2 linked regions of the Homo sapiens genome follow. The protein of the gene in region 1 binds, or shares a complex with, the protein of each later gene. Each region holds a gene or a part of one and is shown in the gene's direction. Other genes may lie near its edges.

Evidence for each region.
Region 2: the proteins of FGF8 (region 1) and FGFR2 are in contact, whole or in part, in a crystal structure (PDB 2FDB), measured with the Homo sapiens proteins. Residues at the interface, in NP_149354.1 of Homo sapiens: His53, Val54, Gln57, Asp62, Leu64, Ser65, Arg66, Leu68, Ile69, Arg70, Tyr72, Tyr75, Arg77, Gly80, His82, Val106, Glu107, Thr108, Thr110, Phe111, Gly112, Ser113, Val115, Thr148, Glu149, Ile150, Val151, Leu152, Glu153, Asn154; in NP_000132.3 of Homo sapiens: Glu160, Lys161, Glu163, Lys164, Leu166, His167, Ala168, Val169, Pro170, Asn173, Asp247, Val249, Arg251, Ser252, Ser282, Asp283, Ala284, Gln285, Pro286, His287, Ile288, Gln289, Ile291, His293, Leu309, Val311, Leu312, Lys313, Ala314, Ala315.

The regions. Positions count from the first base shown.
Region 1 is NC_000010.11:101,771,325-101,780,790, reverse strand, and holds the start of FGF8 (fibroblast growth factor 8 isoform F precursor), read left to right. Parts: upstream 1-4,676; 5' UTR 4,677-4,890; coding exon 4,891-4,922; intron 4,923-5,014; coding exon 5,015-5,051; intron 5,052-5,574; coding exon 5,575-5,661; intron 5,662-5,878; coding exon 5,879-6,059; intron 6,060-9,214; exon of another isoform or gene 9,215-9,221; coding exon 9,222-9,328; intron 9,329-9,466. UniProt on the Homo sapiens protein: Plays an important role in the regulation of embryonic development, cell proliferation, cell differentiation and cell migration. Required for normal brain, eye, ear and limb development during embryogenesis.
Region 2 is NC_000010.11:121,495,956-121,505,613, reverse strand, and holds part of FGFR2 (fibroblast growth factor receptor 2 isoform 1 precursor), read left to right. Parts: intron 1-1,672; coding exon 1,673-1,824; intron 1,825-4,666; coding exon 4,667-4,788; intron 4,789-7,008; coding exon 7,009-7,119; intron 7,120-8,891; coding exon 8,892-9,082; intron 9,083-9,658. UniProt on the Homo sapiens protein: Tyrosine-protein kinase that acts as a cell-surface receptor for fibroblast growth factors and plays an essential role in the regulation of cell proliferation, differentiation, migration and apoptosis, and in the regulation of embryonic development.

The DNA.
Region 1 (9,466 bases):
ATGGGGGCAGAAAGGGGCCCCAGGGAATTTGCCTCCTGGACTAAGGGATTCTTGTCCCCCACACACCGTGGGGTCTGGGGGTCTTTGGTGCCTGGAATCAGGTAGTTCTGGCACTTGGCTGCCTTTGTGCCAGGAAGAACTGACACACCTGGTTTGAGGATGAGTGTATGTGACCAGCTCTGGGGTCAGCAGTTCAGCAGCTGTGTTGGTTGTGGGGGGAGGGTTGTCAATGCCCACAAACAAACAAACAAACAAAACATTGCCTCCCCAGACAACCTGGGGCCAGACAGGCTGAGGATAGACAGAGAACAGGGCCTGATGGGGGTCAGGCCAACTCCCACTCCCAGCCTCTAGTCAAGGGGGAGGGGCCCCGGGATATCGCGGGCTGGTGGTTCTGGGGCAGGTGAGGTCAGCTTTGAAGACCTTGCGTCCGCAGTACCGACCCGCACGCTCTTCAGCGCATCCCTAGTGAAGGAGGTTCTCCCCCAGCCCGTGGTGAGGAACTAGGGGTCCAGTTTCCAACCTCCCTCTTCCTCAAGTTGAGGACAAAGGGAGATGACGCCCGTCTGTGTTGCGGTGATCTGGGTCGCAGGCGCCTTTCTCCGATCCAGGAGGGCGCTGCTAAAAATGCTTCCCTGGGGAGCCCGGCGGAGGGGCGGCCTGGCTGGGAACCATGGGTCTCGCTGCGGAGCGCGGTCGGCAGGGAGAGGGAAGTCGGGGCTGGCGCCCTCTGGCGGGCGAGGTTGAAGCCGCTCGTGGTCGTACCGCTTCCCTGGCCTCTAGAGGCTCCGGGCGGGCGCCGTGGGGCCGGGGCCTCCGAGTCCCGCCACTGCTCTGGGCGGCCGAATCTTGGGCGGAAGGCGGGGGAATGCCACTGAGGCTTGCATGCATGCGTGCATACGTTCATTCATTCATTCGAACGACTTGAGTTGGAGTGGGGAAGTCTGGCTGTGGCCCTCACTCCTCTTTCCCTTCCTCTTCTTGGCCCCAGCCTCCAAAGTCCTCGGCACGTGCTTGGCAGGAGGAGCGGGAGACTGGCTGAGTCCTCTCTCCTGGGAGGCCTCCCTAGCTGACCCATCTACCCCCTGCGCGGCTCCGCCCCAATATTTACCCCACCCACCCCCCGCGATGCCACTGATCGCTCCTTGCATTTCTCGCCGGTTTTCCGGGTAGGTCTCCCGGTGGGCGCGGGCCTGCGCCGAGCACGCTCCTGCCCGCAGTGGGGGCCCAATCCACATCAGCCTCTCGGCCCAAGAGTTTCTCGGCCGGTTGGGGCGCCCCGCGGACACAGCTGGGCAAGGTTTATTCCTCTCTCCTCGCCCCAGCCTCTCCTCGAGCCCTCTTCTTTGCCCTTCAGCGCACAGTAGGAGCGCTGCCGGCTCACTGTGGCCTCAGACCCCTGGGGGATGAAGGCATACGCCGGGGTTTGCCGACTGCTGGAGGAAGGGCAGGCTTCTATTTGGGGGCCGAGGGAGACGACTCCCAGACAGTGGCCGAAGTGCTTAACGTAGTCTCGGCGATTTGCATTTGAACGGTCGGCAGTGAGTCCGCGGCGCTTTGAACGCCCGGCGCAGGAAGCGCGCGTCGGAGCGAGCTGCGGTCTCCGGCGGGTGTGGATTGGAGGGGCCGGGGGATGGGCTGGGATCGAGGGGTGCGTTTGGAAATAGGCTGAAGTAGTGTGTCTGGGTGCAGGCGAGGGCGTGTCTGCGGAGATGGGCCGTTTGTGTTGGCGAGGAGTGTGTGTTTGTGTTTGCAGGCGAGGGAGTTTGTGTCTGTGCGTGTGTGTGTTTGTGTTTGCGGAGTGTGGGGGCGGCCAGGAAAGGTGGCCGGGCTGTCACTCAGCGATCAGGTTGACAGGCGCTCCCTCATCTGGGCCAGGGAGCTCTGATTGCAGATTCGAGGAAACAAAATAGCAATTGTAATTACCGGGCTTTGATAAGATAAAGGAGGGAGGGAGCTGGCCGGGAGGCGGGCGAGCCAGCAAGGGAGGGAGCGGCCTGCGGGGGCCCGGCGGGACATTTGCATCTGTCAGTCACGGGGCGTGCCAGGGCAGAGCCAGGTGCTTGCTCCCGGGGTGTCCCCATCTGCTCCTCTCCCCCAGAGAAACGGACTTTTGGGGAGATGAGAATTTCAACGAACTAGGTGAGGGTCCGCTTCTCAGGAGGGTCTCCAAATCCAAATGTAAAGGAATCCTGGTCCAGCACAGGCTCCCTGGCAGAGGCTGGGACAGGACTGAAACTTGACCTCGGACCCTTCAGATCCCAGGACGCCCATCTTCTCTGGGGCAGAGGAAGAAGGGTGGCTGAAGACCATTGAGGGTCAACCCAGGGCCCTCAGAATCTTCTGGGGGTTCCACAGCTGGAGCTGAATGCTGGTCTCAGCCAGGGGCTCTGCCCCTACCCCCATTCCAGGGAGGGGCAGGTACCCAGAGTGGCTCTGGCTGTGACCCCAGGACCATGCAAACACTGTTGGATGGGCGGGTCACCCTCACCCCTGCCTGGGGCCTACTCCCTGCTCTGCTTATCTCACTGATGTTCAGAGAGTCCATGGTGGGAGAAAGCCCATTTCTTACAGGAAGTGCCTGCTCTCCATCTCTCCATTCAATCATTTGTTCATCGACATACGCAACTAAACATGCTTGAGGGCCTACTGTGTACAAGGATGAGGGTAAGACCACAAGCAAACAGACATAACCTTTGCCCACTTGAAGCAGTGCAGAGAGGGAAACAGACACTCAATGAATTGTGACTCAGGCCTTACACAGAACACAGGGAAGGCAAGGGCTGGCCTGGGCTGTGGCCACTTGTGTCCACCTGACTTGTCTCCGCCTGATGGACCCACCTCCCCATGGGCTTTAGAGGAGACAGTGCCTGCCAAGCCTGTGGCAGATACAAGTGCTCACTAACTGGTGGTGTTCCTGGTGATAATCTGTTGGGAGGAGGTGAAGGCAGGTCTTCCTGGGGAAGTTGCAAATAGGCTGAAGTCTACAGGCTCAGCCACTTCCCCCATCATTCATTCATTCATTCATTCAACGAACTCTTAATTGCAGAACAGCTCTGCCCAGCCTTGTGCCACGAGCTGTGATTTCTGAGCTCATAAGACATGGTCCTTGTGGGCAAGGTCTGTGTGGGCAAGAGCCCACTGAACAGACTCCTGGAGGAGGATGGCAAGTGTGCTCTGGAAGTCTACTTCTCTGAGGAGGGATAAGATCTTGGAACGCACCCTCTAACTGTTTTCCCATCTCTCCATTGCTCAGTGTTTGCATTTATGGCTGGGAGTTGGAAAGATGGGGCACAGGGAAAGGTGGGACACAGAGCAGGGAGGGAGGCAGGGCCTGGCTGTGCTGCTGGACTAGGGCTGCCGCTAATTTTGGCCTAATGGCTTCCTGGGACCACACCAAACCCTCCAGCCCTACCCCCAGGGGAATGGAGGGTCACTGGGGAAGGGGAGGTTGTAAGTGAAGACAGCAGTCTGGTAGGGCATCACCTGCTCCTCACAAGGCACCTGTCCCAGAGCATCTCTGTCCACCCAGGCTGCTCCCACAGAAGCAGCATGGGGGCTCAGGGTTTCCAGAAACCTCAGGGGGGAAGCCACAAGGTGGGGGGCTAGGAAAGGCTTAGACAAGTGCCTACCTTCTCCTATGCCCCAAGCCCAGCTGACCAGCCCCTGCCTAGAATACAGTAGGTGTGTAAATACCTGTGAAATGAAAAACGAGTGGGGCTTTGAGGGGGAAAGGGCTGGGTGGCCTGGATGGAAGTCCCTTCCCCCAGTAAAAGCTACTGAGAGTTTTTTTGCCCCTGCTGCCTGCTGAGGTACGGGGACAGTGGGTCCTGCCAGGGACCTCCGGACTCTCTCTTCCACACAGGTGGCTCGGGGTGCTCCTCAAGCTTCAGGCTAGTGTGTGTGTGTGTGTGTGTGTGTGTGTGTGTGTGTGTGGTGAGGGGCACAGGGGAAGGGGTGATAGTGATAATGGGATGGGGGGAGGGGGAGGCATTTCTGGCTCCCAGGGCCTCCTCGGGAGAGTGAAGGAGACTGGAGAGACCGACAGGACGGGGCACGCGGCCGAAACAGGGGAGCGGGGTCCGGGTGGCACCGGCACGCACTGCGCGAGGGCCGGGTGCGCAGCCATTCGCTGCATGGTTAGCGGCCGCTCCCAGGGGCCCGGCGGGACACACAGTAGGTGGCTCGGAGACCACTGCGTAGCCGGCGGCGGAAGCGGCTGGGCCCGGAGGCGGAGACCCAGACCCGCCAGACTCGGGCGCTCCAGGCGGTCGGGGAAGCCCAGGCTCGGGGTCTCCCGGCCCGCAGAGTTTGCAGCCCTAGGCGCCCCCATCCCCGCGCGTCCGGGACCGGGGAGCGCGCGAGGGGACAGGCCGGGGATAGGGGGAGGCGCCCAGACCGGCCGCCCCCGCCCCTCCCGCGGGTCCCCAGACCCCTCCCCTAGCCCAGACCCTCAATCCCGAACCCGTCGGCCGCCCCTCCCCGGCCGCCCCGCCCCCGCCCCGGGCTGCATCCAGGCCCCAGTTCCCAGCCGGGGGCTGCGGGCTCCCGCCGCCCGCCCCGCGCTCCCCCCTCGCGCCCGGTGCGGCGCCCCCCGCCCCCACCCCTCCCCGCCCTCCCACCTCCCCACCCACCCCGCCAGCCCGTGACCCTCCCGCCCGCTCCGGCTCCCGAGCAGCCAGCGGCCACCGGCTCCGGCAGCGGCGCACAGCGATTCGGTGCGGCGCGGCGAGCACGACGTTCCACGGGACCCGCGGAGCCGCGTCGTGATCGCCGCCGGCCTCCCGCACCCGCACCCTCTCCGCTCGCGCCCTGCTCAGCGCGTCCTCCCGCGGCGGCCCGCGGGACGGCGTGACCCGCCGGGCTCTCGGTGCCCCGGGGCCGCGCGCCATGGGCAGCCCCCGCTCCGCGCTGAGCTGCCTGTGAGTACCGCGCCGCCCTGCCCCGCCACCCGCCCCCCGCGCCCCTCGCCTCACCCGCGCCTCTCTCTCCCGCCCGCTTTTGTCTCCCACAGGCTGTTGCACTTGCTGGTCCTCTGCCTCCAAGCCCAGGTGAGGAGGGGTGCGCGGAGGCGGGGGCCGGGCGCGCCGGTGTGAGACCCGGGTGGGCAGCGCCGGTCGGGGGCACCGGGACTGACTCTGCGGCCGGCGCGGGAGGGCTGAGGGCACCTTAGAAACCCAGCCCCGAGCCACCCCGAGGAGGGAGCTGAGGCACAGAGAGGTAGCACCCCTCCTGAGGTCACACAGCGAGTGAGTGGCCAGGATAGAAACGAAGGTCTCGGAGCCCAGCACTGTCCCCCATGCATCCTCGCCGGCTGGGGGCATAGGGAACACCCAGCCGCCGAGGAAGGGGGCAGCCGCGGCCAGGGGATGGATGTTCGATGCCAGGGGAAGCCGGGTGACTGCAGCAGAGACCCTCTCAGCGCCCCTCGGGGGAGGCTTGTGGCCGATTTGGCCCAATGATCGGGTGCCCAGGTTCCCTGCACTCTCAACATTTGCTCCGTAAATTTGTCTTTATAAATGTCAGGGGTCGGGGAGGGCTGCCTCCCTACTTAAAAGCGCCCTGCTCCTCTAGGAAGGCCCGGGCAGGGGCCCTGCGCTGGGCAGGGAGCTCGCTTCCCTGTTCCGGGCTGGCCGGGAGCCCCAGGGTGTCTCCCAACAGGTGGGTCCAGCTTCTCCCTGGGGCTCGTTCATCCTGGGCTGGGTCTGCCCGACTTGCGTGGGTGGGGGATGGTGGCCTGGGCTGGCATGTTGGGGGAACCCCCAGCACCTGCTGGCGGCTTGGGGCAGTGAGGGGGACGCAGGGTGATGGGGCCACTCGGGCCCCTGGGCGGAGTAGCATTATAATGGTGTATTGTGTATTTTTCAATTTCCTAAAGGTAACTGTTCAGTCCTCACCTAATTTTACACAGCATGTGAGGGAGCAGAGCCTGGTGACGGATCAGCTCAGCCGCCGCCTCATCCGGACCTACCAACTCTACAGCCGCACCAGCGGGAAGCACGTGCAGGTCCTGGCCAACAAGCGCATCAACGCCATGGCAGAGGACGGCGACCCCTTCGGTAAGGCGCGCTGAAGGTAGCTTGTGGGATGCGCGGCGCCTGGACCACCAGTCCCAACTGCACTGGCCGGGGGCCTGCAGGGTCCCCAGCTCAGAAGGGAAGGAGTTAAGGCAGAAAGGTGTCTTGAGGGTCAGCTGGGGAAGAGAGGGCTAGGGAAGGGGCCTCGGGGAGTACTTGGCCACAGGTGCCCCCTTCCCTGCCCAGCAAATGAATGAATCTAGGAATCTCCCTTTACACCTCCCCCCTTCATACACTCCTCCCCAGCTGCAGGTGGAGGCAGGGGGTTCAGGGGGAGGGGGCCTAGGTTTAAGGCAAGCGCTTGAAAGAGGATATGTCGCCAGGGCCCACAAAAGGAGAGTGGGAAAGAGAAGGGAGAGAAATCCCCTCAACTCTCCCAGTTGGAAAAGGAGGTTGCTGGGAACCCTTAAATACTTTAATCGGATGGGTCAATTTACACGTGGAAACTGGGCTTGGAAGGGGGCTCTCCCTGCTCCATTCCCTGGGGAACCCAGGCGGCTGGGGCAGGGCTCCCGGCTCCCTGTGGGGTGGCAAGTGCGGAGAGCTACTGCCGGCAGAGAGGCTGAGGACTGATTGATTTCTAAAACATTCAATATTCCTGCCTTGAAACGGGGCCAATTTCCAGAGTCCTGGATGTACCAAGAGAAAAGCAAGCCCTCTGGGCGGCTGGTGTTGTTTTTAGAGAGCGATTATTGTGAGTTTAAAAACCTTTAAATAATGACCACGTTAAACAAGCATGAAAGGAGAGGGGAAGACTCTATTAAAATGTAATAAAAAGGTGAGGCATTTTAAGAGCTAAGAAGAAAAATGAAGAATGATATAAAACAGAAAAAGAACGAGCTTTTTTTCAGATGTGGAGTTTGAAAGGAGTTGCAAGTCTGTAAATGTTAAAAAAGAGGTTCAAGATTGTTCTCTCTGAATCTCTGGAGAGACCCCTGCGTCTGGCAGAGCGATTAAAACTCTTCTTACTTTCACCTTTTTTAACATTTCCTGAATACTTTCTCCTCTTCTTGAGCCAGTTTGGGGGATCGAGTATGTCTCGCTGCATTTTTTCTGCATCGACGTAGCTGACTTCCCTTCAAAGCTGGAGGAGACATAATTTTCCTGGGATAAATCTGTCACTGGGGTGGAAGAATAGGTTTGAAAATGTTAAGCTTTCCAAAAGCCCGGTCGGGAGAGCTGCCGTAAACTGCGGCCCCAGCTCCCCAGATCGGAGCAGATTCAACCGACATGGGAGAGAGCGGGCTTTCTGGGGTGGGGGTGGGGGCGGCCTGCCTGGTGGCCGAGCTCCCCTACTGGGCTGGCAGAGCAGGCCTACCATCCCTTTGTCCCTCCAAATTAGCTGCTTGCTGCCCTTCTCAGCTTCTAAGGAGAGGAGACGAATGCCTGGCTCTTCCAGGGTTTGCTCTGTCAGAGCAAATGGCCCAGCATCCTTGGATTTCGGGGAGGGAAGCAGAAGTCAAGCTGGTGTGGGGGAATTCATCTTCAGACATCAGAGGAAGCCTGATGTCCACTTCTCTCCGTGGCCATATAAGAGGTTTCCCGCCTTCCCTAGTCCCTGCCCCACAGCAGGATAGGAGCTGGAGGCCCTAAGAACAGAGGCTCAGGGTGTTCAGCCAGGACAGGAGTAGTCCGGGGAGAATAGCAGAGAGGTCTCAATGGCTTCTTTACCGGCCCCAGGAAGATGCAGAGGCACCTACTTCATCCCTGCCTGCCGCATCTGGCCAGAATCCCCAGAGTGGCATCCTCTCACTCCTCCAGTCAGCATCCTTCCTGGCCCTTAAAAATAGCTGCCTCTTGCTGTGGAAGGCAGAGCGGGAGAGGGATGAGCAGACTGGCTAGGTCCAGGAGGAGGTGGGCAGGCAGGGAGGTGACAGCTGCATTTCCCTGCTGACTTGGGGCCAAACCGGGGGCTTGGCCACTGGTCCCAGCACTGAGCCTGTGTGAAGCGGGGAACATTACAAGCTGAGCAGTGATGACTGACTTGCTGACCTCGATGCCCCAAACCCCTGCCATGGGTTTCAGGGACAGAGGAGGTGCCATATGTCAATGCAGGCTAAGTCCAAGAACTGCTTTCTCAGGGAGGGGAGAGGCTGGGCTCTGCGGCAGGGACGGCAGGAGAGCCAGCGCCTTCTGTCCCTTCCTAAACAGTGAAGTCACCCTCACTACTTTCTTGAGGACAGCCTATAAGAGATGATTGCACAGAGAGGTGAACAGGACAGGCTTCTGTGGCAAGTTGGCTGTCTAAGGGGAGGGGAATGGGAAAGGAGGCATAGAATTCAGCCCTGCCTCCTGGCCTCCAGTCTAAGAGGCCAGCAGGCAGGATTCTCCCTCCTCCTCACCCACAGAAGCTATTTGGTCACTGGGCTGAGAAGCCCAGCTGTGATGAGGCTGAAAGAGAAAAGACAATTGAGTTGTTGATTTCTAGACACTGGGCTGGGGACCCTGGTGACTGGGAAGCCACAGGGAAGAGGCAGGATCCTCCTGGCAGGTGTCTGAGGTTCTGGGAAAGCAGCCTGCTTTGGGCTGTGTGTTTAGGGAGAGCTGTCCCCATCCCTAGCACCTTCTCAGCAGAGCAGAGCCTGGTGATGTTGAGGGGCTGGGGGTGGCCAAAGCTGTGAGTTAGAACCCAAAGTGGCAGAAACAGGAGACAATGCTTTCATCTTTGGCCTTGGGACTGGAGGTCACCCCTTCACCCAAGTGTTTGTAATGACCTGTGAGACACGCACACATAATATTTGGAGTTGGAAGGATCCTCGGAGATCTTTTGATTAGCTATGGAACTCTGATTCAATTAAATTTTACTTAGATCCTCAATCTAAGAGACATCACTGTCTGGTTTAAAAAGAGGGTGGAAGGAATGGCACTTCAGCCTTTTCAATTTGATAGTCCCAAGACCTCTCTTGAGAACCCAGTTTGAAAACCATAATCCCGTCCACTGCCCTCTGTAAACCCAGGGGTGGGGCCCGAGGTCCAGAAAAGCCCTTTCTCTGGGTTGCACAGCATGTTAGTAGCTGGGCTGGAGCTGGAGTCCATGTTTTGGGTTCCTGGTCTTTGGAGCAGTTGCTGCTGGGCTGTGACAAGTGTGTGGGCCAGCTGGGGTCAGGGATCTGCCAATAGCCATCCTGCTACCTTCTCTGACAGCAAAGCTCATCGTGGAGACGGACACCTTTGGAAGCAGAGTTCGAGTCCGAGGAGCCGAGACGGGCCTCTACATCTGCATGAACAAGAAGGGGAAGCTGATCGCCAAGGTGAGGCCCCAGCAGGCAGGTGGGGTCCGCGGGACCTAGGGAGTGGCTTGGGCTGGCTGGACTCCTCCAAGACAGTCCTGGGCTCTGATCCCAACAAGGTAGGCAGAAGGCCACAGGGCCATCTTGGGGTTACCTCAC
Region 2 (9,658 bases), about 20 Mb from region 1:
CCCCAGGAGCACCCACATTTACCTTCTCGTCTTTTCCCGCTTGCTTCTGCCATTTGCTTGTGCAACCCAGACACTTGGGTGTGAGGATCTCAGCTCCACAATTAATGATTCTTTAGTTCCCGCTTTTAAAACATTTTGACCATACAATGAATAAATGTTGCTCATACTATCTGCATAATGAAGTTTAGGAATAACTGCCCCCTGCCAAAAGATTGAATGGAAGGCTCAGGAAGTGCTCATGTACGTTTTAAAAGATAATAGGAATTCTATGTGAAAAATGGCCCACTTCTTTATTTTAATACTGAAAACAACTTCCTAATCCTAAAATGATTTTCTTCCCCTAATCTATTCTTGGGCATCTTCTTGAATTTCCAGCCTGCTTTGAGGGAAGTCTGGGTTTACAAAGGCGAGATTCAAAGCTTTTCAAACAGGACAGGTCCTCTGGTTCCCTGTGAGAAGAGCCCAGGACCCACCCTGTGAAAGTTCATCCCACCTAAATTTGTTCATCTGGACTCAGTCTTTGCCAGTGTGATTGAAGGCGTTTGTAAGCACATCCAGGAGTACTATCCACCTGGGCAGTCACGCAGGAGACAGAGCCCAGGGTGGGCTAGTTGCCTGCTTGGAGATGGATCGTGGTTAACTTCACATTCTTGTTCTCTTGGGCCAAAGTCTTGTTCATGGTTTAGAATAAGACAGTGTTCAAGCAGCCTGTGGTCAGACTAAGATTGCGTAGTCATCCTCAAAAGTGGCCTTCCAGTGTGCTCTGTGTGAGTCTTTTTTTTTCCATAGAAACCAGCCAAAGGACAGTGATATATTTAAGAAATAATCATTTTATCAGACACACTGAAATGGATCAGGATAAACAAGAAAGTAACTCGGTGGAGCCCTGTGTACTGCCAGGTGGGAGAGGAGTTCTCTTGTGTGGTTATGGGAAAAGGTGTATTTTCTTTCCATTGATGCTTCATCCCACGTGTTTAGTGCACTGGTTTCTGAAACCGAAGACAAGAGGCAGCCCATTTCCACTGAATAGCCTGGCCATCAATAAGTTTCCAGAAGGACTGGGGAGAAACAAAGAATGGCCCCCAATGCTGGGGTCTGGGGTTATTTTGAGTTAAAGGGACTCGGAGCTACTGAATGTCTTCCACATTCAAGTCCTAGAACTCTTTCCTTGAGATATTCCACTTTACATTTCCAAAGACAGAGGAAATATGGTAGAGCCAATTTCCTAAAAGTTTTCGTAGAATTTCATAAGCACAGCATTGATCCATGATCCGGGTGGTCTGAGAGGGGATCCATTATCCAGGGCTCCAGTACAGGTGCAGGTACAACCATAAAGGCACTAATGAAGCCAGAGAGGACTGTCTGCATGTCCTCAAGTGACTCTCTGGAGGAATTAGGACAGAAAGAAAATTTACATTGTGATCAGATGGTATAGAAAAATTTCATAGAAAAACCTGAACATAGGAACATAAAATTTGGATGAAATCTGGTACTGCATGGACTGGAGGGCAGAGGAGTTAGATTCCAGTGGTTTTCTAATTTGGTTTCTGACTTCTGCCAGCCCCCAACCCATTCCTTTCTAAGATTCGATACTCTGGCTGGGCTCTGGCTGACTTCCAGCCTTCTCAGATGGAGCCAGGATTACATCTGTGTCTTTGCATTTTGTATCCAGGTTTCGGCTGAGTCCAGCTCCTCCATGAACTCCAACACCCCGCTGGTGAGGATAACAACACGCCTCTCTTCAACGGCAGACACCCCCATGCTGGCAGGGGTCTCCGAGTATGAACTTCCAGAGGACCCAAAATGGGAGTTTCCAAGAGATAAGTGAGTACTTCTCTTGGCCATGTCCCAGGATGGAGACTCAGCTATAAATGGGGATATTGGATTAACATTTTCTTTTTATGACCCTTAGCCACAAAGGTCTTGGTGTGATGATGTCAGCAGGAGTAAGATTGTATTTCTAAATAACCAACTCCTGGAAAAGAAAAAAATGGATTTAAAAAAAAAAATAACTCCTTGAAAGCAGAGCTACTTGCCCCTGGCTGGTCCCCAAAGAAGATGGCATCTGGTTATCATTTTTTAAGTGTCTGGGCAATTCAGACTCCGTCAAATGGAATAAAAGTAGAATTATCCAATTTATAAAACAGATCTGACATTCTAGCTTTTGGTTACTAGAACAAGACTGTTCTCTGTTCACTTCTGTGGAGAAATTAGATGCAGAATATAAATGGCCTTAAGGACCGCTACCCAGTGTTGCTGTTCTCATTGGTTATTAATGTCATATTGGGCTGAAAAGCTTCAAATATGGTACCTGACATCTAATTTCTGTGATCCATAATATTTTCCTTGTTGGATGATACAGAGGTGTGCCAATCAGATGTTTAGTCAAAATATGGCCACCTGGGTGGTGTTGGGGCTACGTATCTCTTGGTCTCGCTTGAACTCCACGTACTGGAGCTCCGTTGGGCTGCATTTGAATCCTGGCTTTGCCAGACAGTGGCTGGGCAACCTCGGGTGAGGCACCTGATTCTCTGAAATTCATTCTCATAAAATGAGGGTGGTGGTTCAGACCTCCCAGGACTGAGCAGAGTTCTTGGCTTGTGCGAGTTTTCCTTTCATTTCCCTTCACGTGGTGGTAACCTGGGAGCTCTGAACTGCAAACCTCAGCAGGATCATCGTGTGGGGCATGGAGTCAGTGGGCAGAATTTGAGCTCCTAGCCCTCGTCCTCTAGGCAGGGACCGACCCCTAGATCCTCCTTATGAAAGGAAGTGCAGTGGTCATTGTAGGGCTGTCCACTCACTTCTGGGGTACTTTTTGTCGTCACAGCTTGAGAGTACGGGAAGGTGGAAATGCTGACTACTTCTGCATCACATACACTGGAATAAGCTCTTGACTTGCTTATAAGCAGCTACCCTGTTTGCCTTGACATTTTCAGTAGCTCCTCAGATTATATACACTTCTCATGTGTACCTATACACATTTGGAAATGCAAAGATAAGCTCTTCCAGAGACTGATCTGATGAGCTCTATTTGGAAGGGAGAGGTAGCTTATGTGGCTGGCACTTCTGATTTTGATTCACGTGATGTCACATCAGTTTTGTTTCCCAAGTGCCAATTTAGAGATGTGTACCGTTAGCTAGGACTGAATAATTGTATGGATATTATTTGGTTAGAGTGTTAATGGAAGTAATTTCCAGTTGATTTGTATACTGTAGTGAAAAGACCACTCACTCATTCACTTATTCATTCACTCAAGGCATGTTAATTGGACATTTACTGGTGGGGCACCAGAGAAAACACAAAGAATGGTTTCTTTACCTGTAGGATGTGGAGAAATGGATGTTTCTTGTGAACTCCGCCAGCCCTAGTTTGTGTGTGATTATATACACAGATAGGTTCATGTGCACATTCCTATATATATAACTGAACTGGGGAGTTGTGATCATATTTTAAGAAATTGCAGCTTTCGGGTTTAGTCCATAGTTTTTGCCACCTGTGACACCACAGTCAACAGTGGAAGTCTGTATGTGCCCAACTGTTACCTCCCACCCGGGGTACCCTGAGTGTGGAAAATCTGAGTGCTAAACATTTCAAAACAGTGTTTAGCGCAAACGTAGGTGGAACAGATTTCCAATGAATGAAGGCTATTTAGAAGCAGTTTATTAGATCGGAGGCAGAAGTTATACAAAGAAAGGATTGTTATGCTTGTAGTAGCAAGGCGGTGGGACATAAATTAGCCATTTTTCCAATGCAAATATTTATTTTCTGCCAAGATGTTAAATTTAATTTTCGTTCTGGGTAGAAACAAAATGACCTCAGCATAGCACATGCTGCCCTTAGTCTTTATGCTGCACTTTTGCAAACTATTGTGTACTTACCTTAAATACTGTTTACTAATGGCAGCTCCATGCTTTGCTGTGTTATGCTTAAGTTAGAAAGAGCCGTATTCATAAGTATTCCAAAGACTTTTGCGTTTTGTTGGTTTCTGGAATGCACAAGGACAATATATGGCTATTCGTCCGATGTGCATAGACCTTGTAATCTTAGAAATTTAATTTGTGGTGTTCACTTTGGATTTTCTTCATTGTTAATTTTATGTAGTCATAAGGACTTTTAAACTTATGTCAAAAAAAAAGTCCCCAATTTTTTAGAATTTTCTTTTTAGTAAAAAATTAGAGATTCCTTGAAATGCTTTTAAGAGGCATATCCTGTAACTTGGCAAGGAATGTGACCATAAAATCCATTGGTATTTGAATAATAATTTTAAAGCCACCATTTTACAGGGACAAAAAAATAAGAACAGTCTTAACGTTTTTTCTTTGAGCCATTCTAAATTACAAATATTTAATTGGCTCAAGATCAAAAGCTCTTCTCTGGCACTTAGGAAAGCTGACCACCGCACTAGCAAGGATACCTTCCCTAAAGAAAATAAACCGAGAATACCAATGTGAAATTTAATAGCCGTTCCACCAGTAATTGACATTCTCTAAAACGTCACTAGGAAAATACTCAGGCGCGTGTGTACCCTAAGTCTCATTAGTTCCATATGATAAGCACTCCATGCTTTAGTAAGCCGCTGAAAGATTTTTATATTTAGTTCTGGAATTTCCCTCACTACACCCCATCACCAGATGCTATGTGCTAATCCCCTATTTACACATTTAGGCTGACACTGGGCAAGCCCCTGGGAGAAGGTTGCTTTGGGCAAGTGGTCATGGCGGAAGCAGTGGGAATTGACAAAGACAAGCCCAAGGAGGCGGTCACCGTGGCCGTGAAGATGTTGAAAGGTGAGCGGGGAGGCGGGAGGCTCGGGGAGGGGCTGGGTGGAGAGTCTTATCAAGAAAGTTCCTTTTGTGGCATGTGAACTCTATCATGGCACGGGGTCAGAGAGCACATAGTTGACCTAGGGGTTGAGAAGTTTTCGGTATAAATCAGCATCTCGGACAGACTATTTATCTTGAGCTGTGTGTACTTATAAAGAAAAGCCAGTTTTGTTAGAAAGCGGTAGCCTCCTACATAGAGTTATTCTTTGACTCCTTCTTCGTGACCACAATTCTTCATTCTCTCTGTATTTTTATGTGCTTAGAAATTATCAACTCACATATAATTGAATTTATTAGCTAGGAGTTGGTGTGTTAGATTTGGGACTTAAACCTTAACTTTACAAGTACAAGAAAATTTGTGTTTTTGGAGGGAACGAAGAGACGTAAGGGAGCAGAAAGCCTTCTCTTTTGCGTGAGGAACAAAGCAGAAATGACACTGGTCTGGGAGAGTCACTTAGAAGCTGAGAAGGAGTGAACAGGATCAGGGCTGGTGCAGAGCCTCCTGGGACACATAAACAATTACCCTGAGATGTAAATGTCGTGTTGTGTTTGTGGGACTGTGAACACTTCTACGTTAACCTTCCAACCCTGCTTCATGCCCATGTCCAAAGAACTTAAAGAACTTTTAACCATTAACTTATTCGTCCTGCAGTATTCTTTTATGAGAAGAGTTATAGGGAACTGTCACATTATAAATCCTCTTGTAGGGATCTCGGAAAGAAGATCCCATGCCGAGTGTTTCCCACGTTTCCAGGCAGAGAGGCCCATCCTTGGGATATGGTGCTGGGCATGTCGCAGGCGCTCTGGAGTTAGGCTTTGTCTTTCTTTTGTGGGTTCTCATGGGATAGTCATCACATCCCTCCCAAGGGGAAGTAGCAGGCTGGACTTTGTCAACAAGATGTGCATTTTGTTTTTTGGGTTTTTTAAAAGGCTGTTTATCTGAGTGACTCCCAAGGAAAACTAGAGTGCTTTGAGATGTTCCCCACCTTGGAGCCTGATGCCGGGGAGGAACACTGTGCTGTCTTGCCCCAGGTGTCATGGCACCACTGACTGAGGCAGCCCCTGGCTGCGTACCAGGGCCAGGTGTGGGGAGGACCCAGGCTTCTCATCTCTTTTGGCGGAACTTCTGGTTTTGCTAATGGAGCTCAGAGTTACATGGGATATTGCAAAAAGGGAGGTCTGGGAGTTCTCTTTCTCTTGTGATGCCCAGGCTGGCAGCCTTCCCTGTAAGGACACAGAAGGATATTAGTCCCCAAGCCATTGTGGCGTGTCCTTTCTTACAGCCCACGGCTGTGTCTCCCTCCCTCCTCATGGCCCGTGGCTCCCTCCTTCACATACATCAGTGTAAATTTTGCACACACAGTCACTTGTATTGATCTTCCTTTTGTGAAGCTAAAAAACTGTTTGCAACATGGTTCTTATCCATGCCCATATTTCATTTTTTTTTTAAAGGAAACCCAGATTTTTCCATACTGAATTAGCTTGAGGTGGAGGGCACATGGGAAAGTCTTGCCACTTAGGAGAATCTAAGAGAAGCTAACTGCGAGCCCGCGTATGTGGAACCTGTGCCATTCTTGCTTGAAATTACAGAGCGGAAGTTTATGTAACTTTTCTTAGGATGGGAACTGCAGTGCCCTCTGAGAAGCCACTAGAAGTCGCAGCCCTTTACCTGCTCAGAATGCACATGCACACACGTTTATGGCCCTGTTTATGGGGAACCGTCTGAACCCACCTCGGAACGCTCTAAGGGCCTCGAGGGGCTGGGTTAAGAATGCTTGGTCGGGAGCAAGTCTGTAGTGATTTGAAATGGCCCTACCCTCGGTCTCCTCGCTGGTTTCAGGCACCATGAAGTTTGGTGTGGTTTTCTGAGACGCCTTAGATATGGCAGAGGATGAGATTATCTCATGGTCTAGGAAAGAATTGGCATTAGTGTCAGAAGCCCCTGCTCTCGTCCTGACTCTTGGCCCCATTGGCCCCCCAGTGAGCTCTTTGACACAGAGTGAGGCAGTTCCCTGTGTAGGCCTTTGTCCCTTCCTCGATAAAATGAGGGAGATGATTTGGAAAATCTTTTCTGATTCTGAAATTCAATTTCATGCTGTTTCAACTAAGTCTTTGGCAACTAACAGTAGCTGCCCATGAGTTAGAGGAAATGAACTGATTTGTGAATATGCCTACTGTTCATAGATGATGCCACAGAGAAAGACCTTTCTGATCTGGTGTCAGAGATGGAGATGATGAAGATGATTGGGAAACACAAGAATATCATAAATCTTCTTGGAGCCTGCACACAGGATGGTGAGTAGGAGGAAAAACTGCATTCGCCCAAATACTCTGCAGTTTGATTGAATCATTTTAGAAATGGCTGGGCTTCCAGATCCTGCTCCCAGAGCACCCTGTGTGCATGTTTAAAGTTCTTTTTAAAATCCCCATTGGAAGATGTTCCTAGCCATGAACACAAAGAAGGGTCTGTGCCCGTACCTGGGGGCCAGTGGAAAGGAGGGTGCAGGTGACTTTGGATTTGAGGGCCTAGAGGGCGCTGCTGTTTCTAGGTCATAACCTGGAGGGGGTTTTGGAAAAGGCAGCCTCCTTATGTTTTTGTTTTGTAAGTGCTAAGAGAGATTTGTCAGAATAAGATCCTATGTTTTGGTTGAGAAGTTCTTCCCTTAAAACAGGGATTGAAGAATCCACATCTTGCTGTGGGTCACAGATGGCTGAGCTCCCAAGAATAGCTTAAAAGAGGAGAAAGCGGTATGAAGGAATACGTTATTTTCCCTGGGGGAGAGAGACCCTGGCTTCTTCCATTGAATGTTTACTGGCACTTTGAAATCAATTTGCTAAGTAATTAGTAAACTTGAAAACGCCTATCTTTGACTTAGCAATTTCTCTTGTAGGTCTATATAGTAATTGGTGAACTTTTTCTGTAAAGGGAGGTCGTAGATATTTTAGACTTTTGTGGGCCGTATGGTCTTTGTCGCAACTTCTCGTGTCTGCCATAGTAGTGAGAAAGCAGTGCTAGAAGTACAGAAATGAATGGACCTGGCTGCATGCCAATAAAATTTAATTACCCAAACAGGCGGTAGGCAGGATTTGGCTTGCAGGCTGTAGTCTGCCAACCCCGAGCCTATACCATGGAGAAATTATTGCACACGTGTGTAAGGGAACATGTACAGAGATGTTCATTGCCTACTGTTTGTTATGGCTGAAACCTGGAAGCAAATGCCTATGCATATAAGGGAATGGATAAATAAAGTGTGGTGTGTTTATACGATACAGTATATGCAGCTGTGAAAAGGAATGATCTGGTTTTGTTTTTATAAGCCCAACAGGTTCCAAAAGGATAATGTATGGGTAAAAAATGTTGCAAAGATCTAAGAGCTTTATTATTCATTTATGTGATTAAAAATAATATATTACTTATTGAATAGTTAAAATGAACCAAAAGGATAGAGTGGAGGGATCCATTGCTTTCCAAGAGGGCGCAGGTGACAGCATGAGAGTGACAGGGAAGAGCACGTCAACTGTGTCTCTGTGCCTTTTGAGGCTATCATGACCAAGGGCTTATTTATCATTTTGGAGAGATTATAATCATATTTTTATGTGTGCTTTTCTGTATGTTAAAACTTTTTCTTTTTTCTTCTTCTTTTTTTTTTTTTTTTTTTGAGACAAAGTCTCGCTCTGTTGCCTAGGCTGCAGTGCAGTGGTGTGATCTCGGCTCACTACAGCCTCCACCTCCTGGGTTCAAGCGATTCTCCTGTCTCAGCCTCTCAAGTAGCTGGGACTATAGGTGTGTGTCACCATGCCCAGCTAATTTTTGTATTTTTAGTAGAGACGAGGTTTCGCTATGCTGGCCAGGCTGGTCTTGAACTCCTGGCCTCATGTGATCCACCTGCCTCGGCCTCTGTAAGGGCTGGGATTACAGATATGAGGCACCACGCCCAGCCGCTGTATGTTAAACTTTAAAAAAAAAAAAAAAAGCATGGGTTGTAATAACTAAAAATGTTTTGCTGAATTGCCCAAGGGGAGACCCTGGATTCTCTCTTTAGGGAGCTTCTCTTCTTCCTCAACAGGGCCTCTCTATGTCATAGTTGAGTATGCCTCTAAAGGCAACCTCCGAGAATACCTCCGAGCCCGGAGGCCACCCGGGATGGAGTACTCCTATGACATTAACCGTGTTCCTGAGGAGCAGATGACCTTCAAGGACTTGGTGTCATGCACCTACCAGCTGGCCAGAGGCATGGAGTACTTGGCTTCCCAAAAAGTGAGTCTTTCACATTCTACTTGGCTGGGTGGAATCCAACTAAAAATGTCTTTAAAGAAAACAGGCAATTTGGACATGCTCATTTGCTAGATCAAGCCCTCGCATGTCTTGTACAACCTGGAAAATATTTATTGCGTTATTCCCATTTGAGTTTAATGAACTGTTTAAAACCAAAGCAGCCTCATAAACCTATAGCATCGCTGCAGAGATGAGCAGAAAAGATACCTCTTCTTTGAGACAGGACCATGTGTGATTTCCCTCGGAATTCAGCTCTCCAGGTGGGAAATGGATGGTTTTAAAGGCCCCCTTTAATTCGGATGATTTTCTTTCTTTCTTTTTTTTTTTTCTTAAGCTTCATTTATTTTGTGGTTACTGAGTTTTTGAACATAGACTTTAGGTGTTTAGTGTTTTGGGTTTGATATGGCATTAAATATTCTAAGAGTAAAGGTCAAACAAAGGGGTATTTTAGTAACCTTGCGTCCTGGAGCTCTGCGTTTATTTTGCCTCGTTTGGCGGGTGACCCTCTGTGGTTAGAAGTTGGCCAGGTCCCCTGAGGTGGACTGCCTGCATTCCAGG